Regions from separate parts of the Homo sapiens genome. Here all the other regions are reported to be linked to region 3. The links are microRNA targets in miRTarBase. Many come from high-throughput screens and were not tested one by one. Region 3 holds a microRNA gene; each other region holds the end of a gene's coding sequence.

Region 1 (3,221 bases), not on the chromosome of region 3:
ATGCAGTTTATTTGCTTTTCAGGTTTGTTTTGGAACAGTACAATGCACTCTCCTGGCTAACCTGTGACCCTGCAACCCAGGACAGACGCTCATGTCTCCCAATTCATTTTGTGGTGCTGAATCAGTTATATAACTTTATTATGAATATGCTGTGATCTTCATTTGATGGAACTGTGCAAGAAAAGAACAAGGAAAAATGGATGTTTCGCTGCAGGATTAAGTTACAATTATCTTCTCAGTGAAGGTCATTTGTGATGGGGTCTAATTCTTATTACTTCAACAAATATTGTTTTGACTTGGGGGGAGGGGCTATAACCCTGCTATTTTTCATTGACTCTATTGAACTCTTTAGGATGATGACTGATCATACAAAACGTATTATAACATTTTCGTAGCAAAATTAACCTTTTTTTTTTCCAGTCACAGTATTTGTGAAAAGTAATGAGCCATAGTACCCAGTCATGTTAAATGAATATTAAAAGCATGGAGAGGAAACATGAGGAACAATGAATTTCAACATATGGCTTCAGAACATGAAGATGTTCTTGTATGGATTATAGTATCTAGTATTCAAAAATGCCTGCATCTCTTCTCTTATTTATTGTAAGTTTTTAAATGTATAAATTGTCTTATATTTCTTAACCTCTTTTATAAAAATTTTCCTAGAAGGTTTATACTGCCTTCTTGCTTTAAAGCAATTGGTCTAAAATATATGTAATCGTCTTAATTAAAAAGTTGCAGTAGGGTTGCTTTTAGAGTATTATTTTTTTGTAAGGGGGTGGGTGGGACAGTAAATTTGTATTGTCTCGATGTACAGTTTAACGGGGATAGAGGGGGAATAATGTCCATACCATTGTGTGTGGAGGATTTACAGCTAAGCTGTAGTTGCAGAGTACATGTACAGTAATGAAGTTCACTGTGTTTATAAATTGAAAAGGTACCAGGTCTTACAGCATTTTATATATCACATCTTTACAGAATAACATGATGGCAATATACAAGTGGTATTGTTAGGTGGTTTAACTTAGAATAAAATGAGAATTCTTCAGTTATATTTTGTACTATGGTTTAGGGCTATGACTAATATTTCAGGCCATTTCCGGTGAAAGAAACTTAGTTTTACAAGAAAAACCATTTGCTACTGAATGCTTAAACTAATTTTAGTGTTTAATGTTACATGCTTAAATTTTTTTCAGTTTTAACAGTGGCATATTTAGGCATGGAAATATTATTATGAAATTTATTTTCAGGATCTGCTATAAGGTTGAAATTTAGCCCAGCTCTAGGCATTTTACAAATTATTTTTCAAGCAGTCATTCTTGATTGTTTGACTTTTTTTTTTAAATTAAAGATTGGGAATGTATGTGAGAGTATGCATATGTATGGGTGTGTGTGTGTGCGCGCAATCAAACTGTGGTGTAAATAGATTCTCAGTGAATTCTGGTATTCAGACTCTATTCCACTAGTGAAAGAACCATTTTTTAAACTTCCCTTGCCTTTTTTATTTATTTAATTTTCTTGGTTTGGAGATGTCAGTCCCAAACACCAGAGTCTGTACTTTTCTATAACACAGCTCAGATTAAGGTAGGGCATATGCCAAGGAGGTTCTCACCTCCCTAAAGAAGGGACTTGAATTTTAGGGACTTTAATTCACCCCTCCTTCAATACAACTTTCCCCCTTCTTGTTTGCACATGCCAAGATAACTGCTTTTATGCAGGCTGTACCCCCTTGAAAAATCCTTTCTACAGTGCTGCTCACAAAAGAGCCCAAGTTCGCCTCCTACCTGCATTGCTGACTTGAATTCACAGTCGCCGAGTCTACCTAGCTTTCTTGGAAGCAGTCTAGCAAAATTTCTATTTGTACGTTCACTAATTATCTACAAGGACAAAATCAGTTGTATTTACAAAACTCTACTTCAGTGTTTGTTTTAGTTTTTTTTTTTACTGAAACTTGTTTTTGTGAATACTCTGTGCTTAGAATTAAATATCACTTTCTTATGAACAACATAACTTCTTCAGATTGTGTATATGAAAACATTAGCAAGTCTTGTTTTTTCTATGAAGCAAACACAATTGGTGACAAAGGTTGTCAATCATTTCTTCAAAATTATAATGCAGTTCTAATGGTCAGCATATTTTGATATTAAATTTAAAGATCACCTCTCTGCATTTGTTTTTAAATTATGCTAATACACCACACATTATGTTGGTATGTTTTGTTCTGTACTTTCTTTAAAAAAAAAAAAAAAACTTGTCTGAGATTTGAAGGAAAATGTGCTTATTTGGAATTTCCATAAAAAGAGTATCCTTTTTATACACTTAATAGTGACTTTACAAAATAAAAGTTATATTCTCAGTTGTTTAAAATCACTAACCTATGATAACCACACCTCAATTTGAAAGTAGATTTAAAATTATTCCCTGACAGGTTATTTAATATGGAGCCATAAGGAGGGAACCCAGTACACAATTATTTTTTATTTGGGAATCAGGGAATAGTTCCCAAATATACAGGATTTATTGATAAGATTTTTTTTCTTCCCTTCATATATCCATTCAAACTCAATGGAAAGTTATTAAATAACCATTAGAAAAGCTCAGTAGACTTATTTGAGAAATTAAGCCTTGTGCAGGATGATGGATTTGACTTACTAATGTACTGTCACAGACAAATATGGGTAGTTTTGTTTAAATAGGTAAGCAAAATATTATACTTTATAGCAGTGGATTACCAACACCTTGACTTCTTTGTTACAGTGCTAACATCTTTTTTTTTGTGCAGGTATCCATGATTATTAAGCAGGGTGGAAGTTCAGTATTTTGTCATTTAAAAAGATTAGTTATATAATGTCTGCTTCCAGCCAGTGAGAAACATCTAGCCATACCTTTCTTATGCAAGCCATTGAGTTATCAGGACTGTGAATTAACACTGTATGAATAAATTTCTGTACACCTTATTGTTTGGCCAGAAGGCCACCAAGTGTACTTATATGTAATCCTTAAATTTTAAAGTAGCTGTAATTTTTAAATATTTCTAAACTTTTCTTAAACCACTAAAATTAAGCTCTTACTACTTAGTCAACTATCCTCAGCTGTATTCGTACTCAATTGTCAGTATGGCACAGATTACTGTATTAAAATATTCTCCTTTCGTCTTCATATTTACCTTCTGAGGTAATTTTTTAACTTAATGTGTTACTACAAAGATTTGCAGATCTTTA
Region 2 (3,262 bases), not on the chromosome of region 3:
ATGAGTAAATTTTTTATCATTATTACAATATAGTTGATTAATTTAATCCACATCACATCACAAATGAAAAATCTGGGCCCATCCTTCAAAACTGTGATAAATGTATTGTATTATGCTTCATGAGTGAAGAGTACTTTGTTTTGTTCCTCTGCAGTGTAAACTATAGACTTTAGGATTTAAAAATTAGAGTTTCAACAAAGTCACATTTAATGAGTATGTATACATCTATATATAATCTAGAGACCAGTTACAACTGTTTCTTTACAATGAAAAGGAATGATAATTAAAAAAAAAACTGTGCCCAAATGCTATCATTAATACTGAATGTATTGAAGCCACAAATAAAGTTAAACACACTCAAATAGAAAACAGATCAACTGTGTAGATACAAACTGCATTGCTTGTATCGAACATCCTGATATCCAAACTATAAAAATATATTAAAATGATACATTTTTAATATTACTATAAGGAAAAAACAAATTAGCTAGAAATAATAATACTAATGACTCACCCACTGGTGTATTTGCCATTTCATTGGGACTTGCCAGTACAAAACAGTTTCTTAACGGCAAAAAATGGTAAACAAAAAGGATATGATTATTAGGTTCAAATTATTCATTCTAGACTGTGGAACAATATGGTTATTTTATCTGGTGAAACTAATAATGTTAACCAATCTTTTTTCATCAATTTCAAGTCTACTTTTTTTTTCTTCCCAGGAAGTTGGCCTTGTACTTGCAGCTATATTGGCACTACTACTGGCTTTCTATGCTTTCTTTTATCTCAGACTCACCACGGATGTTGACCCTGATCTGGACCAAGATGAAGATTAGCTAAGCAACAATCAATGCATGAAAGAGAAATAACTTTACGAAAGCACCTTTTGGGACCAAAACTTTCAATACTGAAACTGTAACATCTTTAATTCTTTCTGCTAATATTTTCAGTTTGCAGACATATGATTTTTGATAGTTGCATAGGATGTCAGGAAAAGAACCTTACCTAGCAATGCAGTATAGTATGTGCTACTGGATACTTTTATATATCTTTCTGCTTTGACAGCCACCCTATACATGGTACATTTAGATGAAATGGGAACCAGATCCTAAATTTTTCAAATGTCATTGCCAATTTATGTGTATAATTCCATCACTTCCTGATGAGTAAGTCTATTTTTGTTCTATATACATCATAAGTTAGTATATATTCTTATTTACAGAAACATGCTCAAATCACATTCAGAAAGAACAAAAAGTCATGGGAAATTTTTTATTTTACAACAAAGCCCTGCTTTCTTTCTGGACGTATTTTACATCATTAGAGAGACTATCTGCACATACATCTACCATAATCTTTTTCCTTCTTTGCCAACTGTTCAGTGCACATGTGCTGCATCAGAAATGGCACCTGGATGACAGAAGCTCAAAGAGTCACATATGTCTCTAAAATAGAGTTCTTTTCCTCTTGGGCTGTCTGAACTGGTGTAAATAGAAGCTCAGTTGATCTTGGTTTTAATTAACTTATTACTCTATTAATATAACCTTGGAATTCTATTCTAATTATGTTGTTCTGGCTGCTTGTAGTATCAGTTCGCCCCTCTTGTTAGGGAGATATGTAACAATCTGTCATTTAATTGAGCAGTCTTTTTCACATAACAGTAATAGCAAAAATCCTACCTACTCAGAATCATCTTCTTAGGTTGTCTCCTAAATCTGAACAATACAGTTGTTTTATAAAATTACATTTTGTCTCTTGAGATTTAATCAATTAGAACTCTTTAGGGAGAAAATAAATAATAGAAGAAAATATATGCCTCATATTTCATATGTAATTATCTGTTGATATAATTTTTCAATGTATTTTGTATTTGTGGGAGCATAATGACCTGTACATTCAATATTTTTACTGGTAATTCAATTTTTAAATATGTTTTTACAATGCTTGAACACATAAACCTTAGAAAACTGGAAAATACGTGTCCACAGAAAGAGTTATTAGCTACTACCTTATGTAAAGATGCATAGAAAATGAAATTGTTGGAAACATGTGCACAAAGTGTTTTATATTATATACATTGTATTTATGAAGAATAAATAAAATATTAAGATTGTTTTCCTGCTAGCCAAGAGAAGAAATCCTTGGGAAATATCTAAGGAGTATATGGGGCTTTATAAGCACTGTTTCTAAAAGATATTCTCTGGTACTTTTGCAAAAAGTCGACTGTGACTGTGTAGCATTATGTTCTGTAGAATTTTTTTCAAGTAGCATAATTTATTTCATTGGTGTGAAAACAGCCAAAGGTTCCAATATCCTCACAAATCATTTATGCCAAACATCTGAGGGCAAAATTTAGCCGGTGTTATTTACTAGATTCTTCCCTTTGAACTCACAGACTCAAGAGACAGACCAAGAGTTCTTATATACTCACCACAGCGGACCAATCCAAGTGGCATTTTTAGGAAAGGTTGCAGCATTTAATGCCATGTGGTATGTCTGTTCGTCAAGTGGGTGGCAAGGGAATATCCAAGCTGGCATTTTGGATATGATGGGCCTTTTACTTTCCTGAGTGACATGCCACATGTCAAGAAATACTGCTCCCCACCCCCCCACTCCCATCACATTTACGTGAACAATTTTCATTTAGTTATTTCCCGTTCCATATGGTGTTAAAACAGTCGTATTAAATAAAGATTATTTCTAGTTTTCAGTGGTAATTTAAATGAGAGGATATGTAATAATTGCTTATTAGATACTTATCCAAATGAAATATAACAGAGTTTACAGTACTTAAAATGGCTGGTTATGGTCTTGGAAATGTTTGAAAATTCATTATCCTGAAAAAAACTTTACCATTCTGTTTTACCCTTGAGGTATTTTTTGGGGAAAAATGTTTTTGATAACTATTAATCTAAATATAGTATAATTATAGGCAAATTTCACTGCCTAGTTTTATTGATATCCTGAGTCTACAGCTAGTCCATTCGTATGACTGATTGATTTATGATAGCTCCAGAGAACCATAAATTTCAAAGGCTAAACTCTCTGATTTTAGTAAATAGTAGGTAAAGTGACACAATATATGTTTACACAACACTGTTTTCATGAAATGCAAACTTTGCAAAACTCACATTAACTGGGAAGCAGCCAACCCTCTGTAGAGAAATCCCAGATTGGGAGTCTGGTTTGAATCTTTGAAGACAGAAAGGTGATATCCGGCCTGCTGTTTTAAAGGGACCACACTTTTGAATACCTACTGGTG
Region 3 (3,264 bases):
CCAGGTGTGGTGGCTCATGCCTGTAATCCCAGCACTTAGGGAGGCTGAGGCGGATGGATCACGAGGTCAGGAGATTGAGACGATTCTGGCTAACACAGTAAAACCCGTCTCTACTAAAAATACAAAAAATTAGCCGGGCGTGGTGGCAGGCGCCTGTAGTCCCAGCTACTCGGGAGGCTGAGGCAGGAGAATGGTGTGAACCTGGGTGGCGGAGCTTGCAGTGAGCAGAGATTGTGCCACTGCACTCCAGCCTGGGTGACAGACTCCGTCTCAAAAAAAAAAGAAAAAAAAAAAGAGAGATGAAATTATTATTATTATTATTTTGAGACAGTTTCACTCTTGTCGCCCAGGTTGGAGTGCAGTGGCATGATCTCGGCTCACTGCAACCTCTGCCTCCCAGGTTCAAGCGATTCTCCTGCCTCAGCCTCCCTAGTAGCTGGGATTACAAGCATGCACCACCACGCCTGGCTAATTTTGTGTTTTTAGTAGAGACGGGGTTTTTCCATGTTGGTCAGGCTGGTCTCGAACTCCTGACCTCAGGTGATCCGCTCGCTTTGGCCTCCCAAAGTGCTGGGATTACAGGTGTGAGCCACCGCACCCGGCCTTTTTTTTTTTTTTTTTTTTTTGTGAGACGGAGTCTCACTCTGTGCCCCAGACTGGAGTACAGTCGTGCATTCTCGGCTCACTGCAACCTCCCCCTCCCGGGTTCAAGAGATTCTCCTGCATCAGCCTCCTGAAATTAATTTTAAGATTCTATTTTACTTAACCCAATACATGCAAATACTATCACTTCAACATATAATGAATATTTTGAGATGTTTTACTTTCTTTTTTTTAATTAAGACAGGGTCTTGCTGTGTTGCGCAGGCTGCTGGAGGGCAGTGGCATAATCATGGCTCACTGCAGCCTCTACCTCCTAGGCTCAGGTGCTGGCACACACCTGTAGTCCCAGCTATTCAGGAGCAATCCTCTGACCTCTCGAGTAGCTGGTACTTCAGGTGCGTGCCACCATGCCCAACTAATTTTTATATTTTCTGTAGAGACAGGGTTCTGCCATGTTGCCCAGACTGGTCTCAAGCTCCTGGGCCTGATCCACCCTGCCTTGGCCTCCCAAAGTGTTGGGATTACAGGTGTGAGCCACTGTGCCCAGCCTCAGTTTCTCTCTCTTTTTTTTTTTTTGAGACAGGGCCTGGCTCTGTTTCCCAGGCTAGAGTGCAGTGGTGCAATCTCAGTTTATTGCAACCTCCACCTCCCAGGCTCAAGCCATCCTCCCACCTCAGCCTCCAAAGTAGCTGGGACTACAGGTGCAGGCTACCATGCCCAGCTAATTTTTGTATTTTTGGTAGAGATGGCATTTTGCCAAGTTGCCCAGGCTGGTCTCAAACTCCTGAGCTCAAGCCATCCGCCTGCCTCAGTCTCTCAAAGTGCTGGGATTACAGGCATGGGCCACCATGCCCAGCCTACTTTCTTTTTTGTGTGTGTACTAAGGGTTCAGAATCGGTGTGTATTTTACACTTAGAGCACATCTCAACTCAGACTACCCTATTTCATGTGCTCAATAACCAGGGGGGCTAGTAGCTACTCAACTGGACGGTACAAGTCTAGAATATGGCATGAGCGAACTGGACTGGAGGTGGGAGCTTATCTACCCAGAGTGACCCAAGAGAGACTCTGCCTTGAAGTGGGCACATATGATAGAAGATGAAGTGGGGAGCAGGTATGAATAAATGGGATTAAACAATGACCTATGTTTATTTATAAGAGTCAGTCCCTTTATTCCCCTACTCACCTCATACAACACACCCTGAAGGATTCTTTTCTAAAGAAATTGAGTAAACTGAGAATTGAGGTCTCTAATGGCGATATCTTAGAGTAACACCCCCACCACTCCCTTTCTGGCCTACGGAGGCTCAAAGCCTAACAACCAGCACTTCACTCACTCATCCTCAAAGCAAAGCCTGCCAGTCAGTGTGCCCTGCCCATGTACTTAAAGTTTCCAGTCAAAGCTCTTACCCCCTTAAACAATGACAGAGAGAAAGAAACTGCACTCCTGCTACTCAGTCCTTCATTTTTACATATAAAGAGACAAGCAAACAAGCCAACTATACTTGGAAAACAAGCAGCATGAAACAGAAAAATTGACCCCAGTGAAAAGACAAAATTGAGGAAAATAAGGGAATTTTTTTTTTTTTTTTGAGACAGAGTCTCGCTCTGTTGCCCAGGCTGGAGTGCAGTGGCGCAATCTCAGCTCACTGCAACCTCCACCTCCCGGGTTCAAGCAATTCTCCTGCCTCAGTCTCCCGAGTAGCTGAGATTACAGGCATGCACCACCACACCCAGCTAATTTTTGTATTTTTAGTAGAGACAGGGTTTCACCATGTTGGCCAGGCTGGTCTTGAACTCCTGACCTTGTGATCCACCCACCTTGGCCTCCCAAAGTGCAGGGATTACTGGCGTGAGCCACCACGCCCAGCCAAATAAGAGATTTTTAAAACAAGAATAGTATGCTATGAGAAAAGAACAATCAGCAAACATAGAGGCCTTAGAGATGAAAAATATGATTGCTGAAAAAATCTCAGTAAAAAAGCTAGAAGATAAAGTTGAGGAAATCTCTCCAAAGGCAATGCACATACAAAGAGAGAGAGAGAGAGAGATTAAATATTAGAGAAATATAGGAGAAAAAGATGACCAATCTATGAGGTCTACCATCTGATGAACAGAAATCCAGAGATAATAGAAAAAATTAAAAGGAAGATATTATCAAAGAAATATCAAAGGAAAATTTCCCCAAGCTAAAGAAGTACTCAAATCTCCAGGTTAAAAAAGTCCTAGAGTCCTGAAAGGATGAATGACAAACGTCCCACAACAGACACATCCTTTGAAATTTCAAGTAATCAAAAGATAAACAGAATATTCCTCAATGCTTTCAGAAAGGAAAATACAAGTCATCTATAAAAGAATTGGAATCAAACTCAAACTGGCACCAGACTTCTCACTAGCAACACTGGATACTAGAGACAATGGAATAATAACTGCAAAAGTTCTGAGAATGTGAATTTGAACTTAGAAATCTACACTGAGACTGGGTGCGATGGCTCACACCTGTAATCCCAGCACTTTGGGAGGCTGAGGTGGGTGGGTCACGAGGTCAGGAGTTTGAGACCAGCCTGACCAACATGGTGAAACCCCGTCTCTACTAAAAATACAAAAATTAGCTGGGCATGGTGGCGTGCCTGTAATCCCAGCTACTCAGGAGGCTGAGGC

The links. The annotated mature microRNA hsa-miR-5585-5p reads UGAAGUACCAGCUACUCGAGAG and lies in region 3 at 976-997, opposite strand. An mRNA with a match to its seed (bases 2 to 7 or 8) in the 3' UTR can be bound and repressed. Matches are read on the target gene's strand: a 7mer-m8 pairs with bases 2 to 8, a 7mer-A1 pairs with bases 2 to 7 and ends in A, and an 8mer does both.
Region 1: miRTarBase lists MED13 as a target of hsa-miR-5585-5p. Seed matches in the 3' UTR shown: 7mer-A1 at 273-279 and 7mer-A1 at 1,913-1,919.
Region 2: the mRNA of TRIQK is a reported target of hsa-miR-5585-5p. The part of its 3' UTR that is shown has no 7-base or 8-base seed match.

What each region holds. Positions count from the first base shown.
Region 1 is chr17:61,943,402-61,946,622 of GRCh38, reverse strand. It overlaps MED13 (mediator complex subunit 13), which reads left to right. Exons shown (of 30, transcript NM_005121.3): 30 at 23-3,221. The coding sequence ends at 155. Among named protein-coding and RNA genes, the nearest start is that of INTS2, 17 kb to the right of the region's middle.
Region 2 is chr8:92,884,196-92,887,457 of GRCh38, reverse strand. It overlaps TRIQK (triple QxxK/R motif containing), which reads left to right. Exons shown (of 5, transcript NM_001171797.2): 5 at 723-3,262. The coding sequence ends at 836. Among named protein-coding and RNA genes, the nearest start is that of TRIQK, 80 kb to the left of the region's middle.
Region 3 is chr1:32,084,682-32,087,945 of GRCh38, reverse strand. MIR5585 (microRNA 5585) reads right to left here and starts at 997; the gene lies at 939-997. All of the region lies in intron 5 of TMEM39B (transmembrane protein 39B), which reads right to left.